2 linked regions of the Homo sapiens genome follow. The protein of the gene in region 1 purifies or fractionates together with the protein of each later gene. This does not show direct contact. Each region holds a gene or a part of one and is shown on either strand. Other genes may lie near its edges.

The links.
Region 2: the proteins of SDCCAG8 (region 1) and ERC1 purify together in Homo sapiens (co-immunoprecipitation; one study listed by IntAct). This does not show direct contact.

What each region holds. Positions count from the first base shown.
Region 1 is NC_000001.11:243,262,541-243,266,040, reverse strand, and holds part of SDCCAG8 (serologically defined colon cancer antigen 8), read right to left. Parts: intron 1-3,500. UniProt on the Homo sapiens protein: Plays a role in the establishment of cell polarity and epithelial lumen formation. Also plays an essential role in ciliogenesis and subsequent Hedgehog signaling pathway that requires the presence of intact primary cilia for pathway activation.
Region 2 is NC_000012.12:1,081,723-1,085,222, forward strand, and holds part of ERC1 (ELKS/Rab6-interacting/CAST family member 1), read left to right. Parts: intron 1-1,441; coding exon 1,442-1,858; intron 1,859-3,500. UniProt on the Homo sapiens protein: Regulatory subunit of the IKK complex. Probably recruits IkappaBalpha/NFKBIA to the complex. May be involved in the organization of the cytomatrix at the nerve terminals active zone (CAZ) which regulates neurotransmitter release.

The DNA.
Region 1 (3,500 bases):
AAATTTTTGTTGCGTTTTTAAAGAAGAAATGTATTCCATGGAGCTTTCAAATGACTTCACCTCTAAGGCAAGGGATAATTATTTATTTATACCTAGTCTGAGTAAAAGCTAATAAACTATATTAGGAAAAAGAAAAAAAATATGGAAAGAATTTGCATAGTTAAAAGCCTCTGTAGGCAGAGTTCTTTCATCAGATTACAAGAAAGGCAGGAGTTTTTTTTTTTTTTGGAGACGAAGTCTCCCTGTTGTCCCCAGGCTGGAGTGCAATGGTGCGATCTTGGCTCACTGCAACCTCCGCCTCCCAGGTTCAAGCATTTTTCCTGCCTCAGCCTCCCGAGTAGCTGGGATTACAGGCATGCGCCACCACACCCACCTAATTTTTGTATTTTTAGTAGAGATGGGGTTTCACCGTGTTGGCCAGGCTGGTCTCAAACTCCTAACCTCAGGTGATCCACCCACCTTGGCCTCCCAAAGTGCTGGGATTACAGGAGTGAGCCACCATGCCCGGCCTAGGGCAGGATTTTAAGAGCACTTTTCATTCCTTTTCTAATGTTCTTGTTTAATCTTTTAGAATTTATAACATTCAAAGACTACATGTTAAATTGCACTATGAACATAATATTACGTGAAATAATGAGCTATTGAATTCAACAACTATCCCAAAGAAAAGTGACACACAAGGCTTTAGGGTTTGTTTGTTTGCAACTACTGATTTCAGAGTTACTAGGGTCAGAGAGGAAAAGCAGGAATTTGCAAGAACTGTGCCCTAAAACTAAAACTACAGAGTTGACATTTTAAAGTCATTTCAACGCTACATTTCAAAACATGCTAAGTGCTTTTCAAATACATAACAAACCAGCATAATTATATACTATAACAGATAAACACAGTTAATGTGAAGAAGAATAACACTCAGATGATTCAGGACAGATGAAATCCCATGGCTCTTCAACTGGAGCCATTGCAACTGAAGCCCCCATAATCCTTATTAAGAGCACTACTCCCCAGATGCAGTTATCTGCTCCTTACATTTAAGGAAACCAGATTAGACAGAAGGTTCCAGTTACCGTTTCCTATCCAACTGCTAATGGGACACAGCTTTATCTGTTTCTAACCAAGAGAGAGAACACACTCATTTCCTCTTCTCTCCTGAGAGGACAGTAAGGGTATTTCACAATGAATGCATCCTGATTTCTTTTCCCCAGCACCAACCAGGAACTGACTATAAACTTAACTATGACTACAGACACAAACAGGACCCCTGAGTCCTACAGATCACATGAACGTAAGTGCAAGTAGATAATATTTCTGCTAATGCACTATCCAAACATCAATCAGTACAATGAGCACTTAAAAGGTACCTGAGCTAATGGCTGCTAGCTAATTTCAGTCTGTCTTGTCCATTTTCTTTCTTCTTTTTTTTTTGAGATGGAGTTTTCGCTCTGGTTGCCCAGGCTGGAGTGCAATGGTGCAATCTCGGCTCACTGCAACCTCCGCCTCCCAGGTTCAAGCAATTCTCCTGCCTCAGCCTCCTGAGTAGCTGGGATTACAGGCATGCACCACCACACCTGGGTAATTTTGTATTTTTGGTAGAGACAGGGTTTCTCCATGTTGGTCAGGCTGGTCTCAAACCCTCGACCTCAGGTGATCCTTCCGCCTCAGCCTCCCAAAGTGCTGGGATTACAGGCGTGAGCCACCCTGCCTGGCCTGTATTGTCCATTTTCTTAGTAAGAGTTTCCCTACTTCCTATGTTCTAACTCTTAGGTCACCACTGGGCCTGTCTTCATCAAGATGTTTTTGAACAAAATGCAAGTATGTCTCAGTCTAGGAAGAATCACCACTTAAATACACACTATGAATTATTAATTTCTTCATTCTCCATCTGTCCTGGGAGATGTGAAAGAGAATTGCCCTGGTGACAGGGAGGGGGACCACTCCCTGCGAAGCGCCCAGCTGTCTCTGAGAGAATATGCAATGAACCATTCCTCCCGAGGCCGAGATATGAGATGCACTGCAGCTCCCAGCACAAGCTTTGATTAGGGCAGACATGCAGAAAAATAAAACCACAGTGAGATAAGAAATACATGTCTATCTACACTTGACTGGGCCTCAGCCTGGTTCAGAAGATTGCTGTCACTGTTTACTAGGGGACCAACAGGTAACACTACCAAGATATAAACAGCAGAATCAAAAAATCAGACAATGTCGGCTTTGTGAAAGGCAATTACAATTGTGAAAGAGATTACAAGTACTATGTAGAATACTTTTTTGTTTGAATCTCAAAGAAAATACTATCCTAAGACTCTAATAACTGAAAACATGCTAAAGTGGTTGGCGCCAGGAGTAAAAGATAATCTGATAAAGAATGTAAACATCTTAAGAAAGCAATGTCTGGAAGACCATTAAAGATATGTGGGTGTTGGCAAATCCAGGAGATTGGCTATATGCATTCTAAGGGATACACCTGGTATTTCTTTGGCATCAGTGGAGAGGACTGATGCACCTGTCACTTTCCACTGATAAAAGAAGTAAACCTAGCCAGGCTGGCAAAGAACATAGGTAAAATCACCAGCAAATACAATCTGTATATCCTTACTTGTAATTACTGTAAAGTAGGATTCTTGCAGATCAAGGGCTACAAGCAAAGCCTGTACTTCTAGATCGTGATTTCTCAACCTCAGCACTATTGACAGTTTGGACCTGATAATTCTCTTTTGGAAGGGGCTGTGTTGTGCCAGTTTAATAGCATCCCTGGCTTCTGCCTACCAGAGGCCAGCAGCACTCATCTCCACCCCCAATTGTGACAATAAAAAAAAATCAATAAAACAAGACAGTTTTCAAGTCAATAAAACGAGATCAATAAAACAAGAGTTTTCAGTGTTGAGGGGAGACTTGCTATCACTCTGACCACATTACATTGTAAGTGTTGCCGCCTCTTGATGGAAAATGAGCGTGACAGTGAGCTATTCTGCCACAGGAGTGCTGGTGGGGAGGACACAGCCTGAGACCGACAGTGCCATGATGGGACACATCTGATCCAGGTGTCAGGAATAGGTGTTATATCTATCAGAAGCAAGAGCTCAGATTCATATTTAGCTTTATTTTGTTTCAGGGCCTAAAAGCAATATTTGCCCTAAGGCCATCCCTTTAAGTATCCAGTGGGCTTTGATGAAGTTCCGCCATCATCAGGATTGCTTCAGCCAGTGCACAAGGGCATTTCTAGCTACCTTGTCTACTTTTGGACTCTGAGAAGAGTTATCATCAAGTAAAATGGTGAAAATCTTAGCACAAACTGGCAATGTGATCAGACCATAAGTCTTTAAACATCCCAGGAGAGAATATTATTACTCTCAGTATCTCAATAGTTTGAAAAAAACTTACTCTATACCTATTTCTGACAAAGAACATGAAAAAGTACCCCTACAATCTCCTAACACTGAAACATACCTTTGATTTAGATTATTCCAGGGATGACTATTTACTTGTAGAACACTCATTTC
Region 2 (3,500 bases), on another chromosome or scaffold:
CAACAGGAATATAAACTTTTGGTTGAGATGAATAAACTCTACAGATTTGATGTATAACATTGTACCTGTAGTCAGCAGTAATGCATTGTACACTTAAAAGTTGTTAGGAAAGTAGATGTCATGTTAAGGGTTTTTACTACAGTAAAATAAAAAAAGAGTCCATGTGTCATAATGAAGATTAAATAACATAAAAAATGTGTGGTACAATCTGGCATATACAAACTACTTGTTAAATGTTAATATTTATTATTTAATGTTTATAATACTTAAAAGTCATTTTGTATTTCGCTGTCCTTCGGTTTTGCTTGTTTGTTTGTTTGTTTTGACACGGAGCCTTGCTCTGTCACCCAGGCTGGAGTGCAGTGGTGTGATCTTGGCTTACTGCAAACTCCACCTCCCAGTTCAAGCAATTCTTCTGCCTCAGCCTCCTGAGTAGCTGGGATTACAGGTTCGTGCCACCATGCCTGGCTAATTTTTCTATTTTTAGTGGAGACGGGGTTTTACCACGTTGGCCAGGCTGGTCTTGAACTCCTGACCTCGTGATGTGCCCGACTCGGCCTCCCAAAGTGCTAGGATTACAGGCGTGAACCACCGTGCCTGGCCAATTTTTGTATTTTTAGTAGAGATGGGGTTTTATCATGTTGGCCAGGCTGGTCTTGAACTCCTGGTGATCCGCCTGCCTCGGCCTCCCAAAGTGCTGGGATTATAGGTGTGAGCCCCCGCGCCTGGCCATCCTTTGTATTTTTTGATGAAAAAAAAAAATTTTTTTTTTTTTTTTTTTTTTAAGACAGAGTTTCACTCTTGTTGCCCAGGCTGGAGTGCAATGAGTGCAGTCTTGGCTCACTGCAATTCCCACCTCTCAAGTTCAAGCGATTCTCCTGTCTCAGCCTCCCGAGTAGCTCAGATTACAGGCACACGCCACCACGCCCGGCTAACTTTTGTATTTTAGTAGAGACAGGGTTTCATCATATTGGTCAGACTGGTCTTGAACTCCTGACCTCAGCTGATTTGCCCACCTTGGCCTCCCAAAGTGCTGGAATTACACAGGTGTGAGCCACCACGCCCGGCTGTTTTGATGAAATTTTTTGAAAGAATGTATTCATATTCCTGTAGATTTCCCATTTCCCACATTCCCTCAAATTTAGTTTCCGTGTTAATATCTTCTATTAATTTTGAACAGTGTCTTTATTGTAGTTTATGCAAAGTGAGGAGTGAGTGCCATACTTATTTTGCTTCCTGTTGAGAATAAACTGAAGTTAAATTACTGACATTTTGCATATTATCTCAATCATTTTTTAAGGACCTGTAAAACAGAATAAGGTGAATCCTAATTTGCTAGATGCAGATTTCTTGTAGCTATTTTTGATTCCTGCAGGCTGCTCTGATTTGCTACTTGAGGAGGAAAGCTGATTTGGGGGTTTTCTTTTTGTCTTGGTTCTAGCACATGCAGATGACAATCCAGGCTCTCCAGGATGAATTGCGGATCCAGAGGGACCTGAATCAGCTGTTTCAGCAGGATAGTAGCAGCAGGACTGGCGAACCTTGTGTAGCAGAGCTGACAGAGGAGAACTTTCAGAGGCTTCATGCTGAGCATGAGCGGCAGGCCAAAGAGCTGTTTCTTCTTCGAAAGACATTGGAGGAAATGGAGCTGCGTATTGAGACTCAAAAGCAGACCCTAAATGCTCGGGATGAATCCATTAAGAAGCTTCTGGAAATGTTGCAGAGCAAAGGACTTTCTGCCAAGGCTACCGAGGAAGACCATGAGAGAACAAGACGACTGGCAGAGGCAGAGATGCACGTTCATCACCTAGAAAGCCTTTTGGAGCAGAAGGAAAAAGAGAACAGTATGTTGAGAGAGGTATGTGACTACTTTTTTAGTTTTATGATTTGTTGGTTATCTTTTTTTTCACTGATTAATCAGCATCTTGGCCCCAGTGAATCTACGTGCTCTGCCGTGCTGGTGGAAGAGAATTTCATCCTTTGTATTTAAGTGCGTCACTGATTTCTGTTCTGATTTGCCCTGTTGTATGGGATGACATTGTCTGGTATGTATGCTGGCTCAGTGACTTTCTGGGTCTTTTCTCTCCTGCTCCCCTGATTTTGAGAGTTCATTTGTTGCTAAAGGGGTAAAAAATTCCTTGATTTTTCACTCATCTCTAGATCTGTTCATAGAGACAACAAACACAACAAAACCAGAATCAGAATAGCTAACCATTGCTTAATTTAAAAATATTAGTAAAAGAGAGTAAGCGGTTATCTCAGCTTATGTGTGCTTATAAAAGTCCTTGGCAGCAATAATGGATATTTGCCCTGTGGTTTCCATGGAAACTGTTGCCTTGCTGTAAAAGATACGTGATAAAAATCATTGGCTGCCATGGAGGCATAGCTGGAGAGAGTGATGTAGAGACACAGTGTTACTTATTTTTAGCTGACCTAGGTGACTACTGATAATTTTTTACTTTTCTAAATAATGTATCATTTTAAGAAGGCGTAAAGGAAGAAACCATCTTATATTGAATTAAAAAATTAATAGCCATAATAACTTTTCTATATATAGTTGGACTTCAGGTAATTTTCACTTTTGGGCAGGGGAAAATAAATCCCTAATCTGTGTTAGTATGAGTCTGAATAATTCCTTTTTAAATAAAATGTGAGGAAGGAGGTTTAAAAAATGGCGTATTCCCAAAGCAGCAAAATAATAATTTTTAAAAATACTTCTAAATTTGTAGGTTGTTCTATAATTTTTCCTTTTGTAAAAAGTCTGAAATCTTTTTTAACAGTGAGGGCATTTTTATTTTTGAAGTAGAACATCATTGTTTTTTAAAAACATGATGTTATTACACTGGAAATCCATTGTAGTAAAATTGGGAAATAGATTAACAAAAACTTATAACTCAAAGTATTGTTACCTAGTAGTAATTATTAACTTATGTATATGCTTCCAGTCATTTTTTTTTTATTTTAAATTTTTATTGTTTTTATTTTTAGAGATAGGGTCTCACTCTGTCACTCAGGCTGGAGTGCAGTGGCATGATCATGGCTCACTGCAGCCTTGAAATCCTGGGCTTAGGTGAGCCTTCTGCCTTAGCCTCCCTAGTAGGTAGGTCTACAGGTGCATGCCACCATGCATTGTTAATTTTTAAATTAAAAAAAAAATTTTGTAGAGACAGAGTCTCCCTATGTTGCCTAGGCTGGTCTTGAACTCCTGGCCTCAAGCAATCCTCCCTCCTTGGCTTCTGAAAGTGCTGACATTACAGGCAATATGCCTATGCCTGGCCCATTATTATTATTGTTGTTGTTGTTGTTGAAAGTGCTGAGATTACAGGCAATATGCCTATGCCTGGCCCATTATTATTATTATTGTTGTTGTTGTTGAAAGTGCTGAGATTACAGGCAATATGCCTATGCCTGGCCCATTATTATTATTATTGTTGTTGTTGTTGAAAGTGCTGAGATTACAGGCAATATGCCTATGCCTGGCCCATTATTATTATTATTGT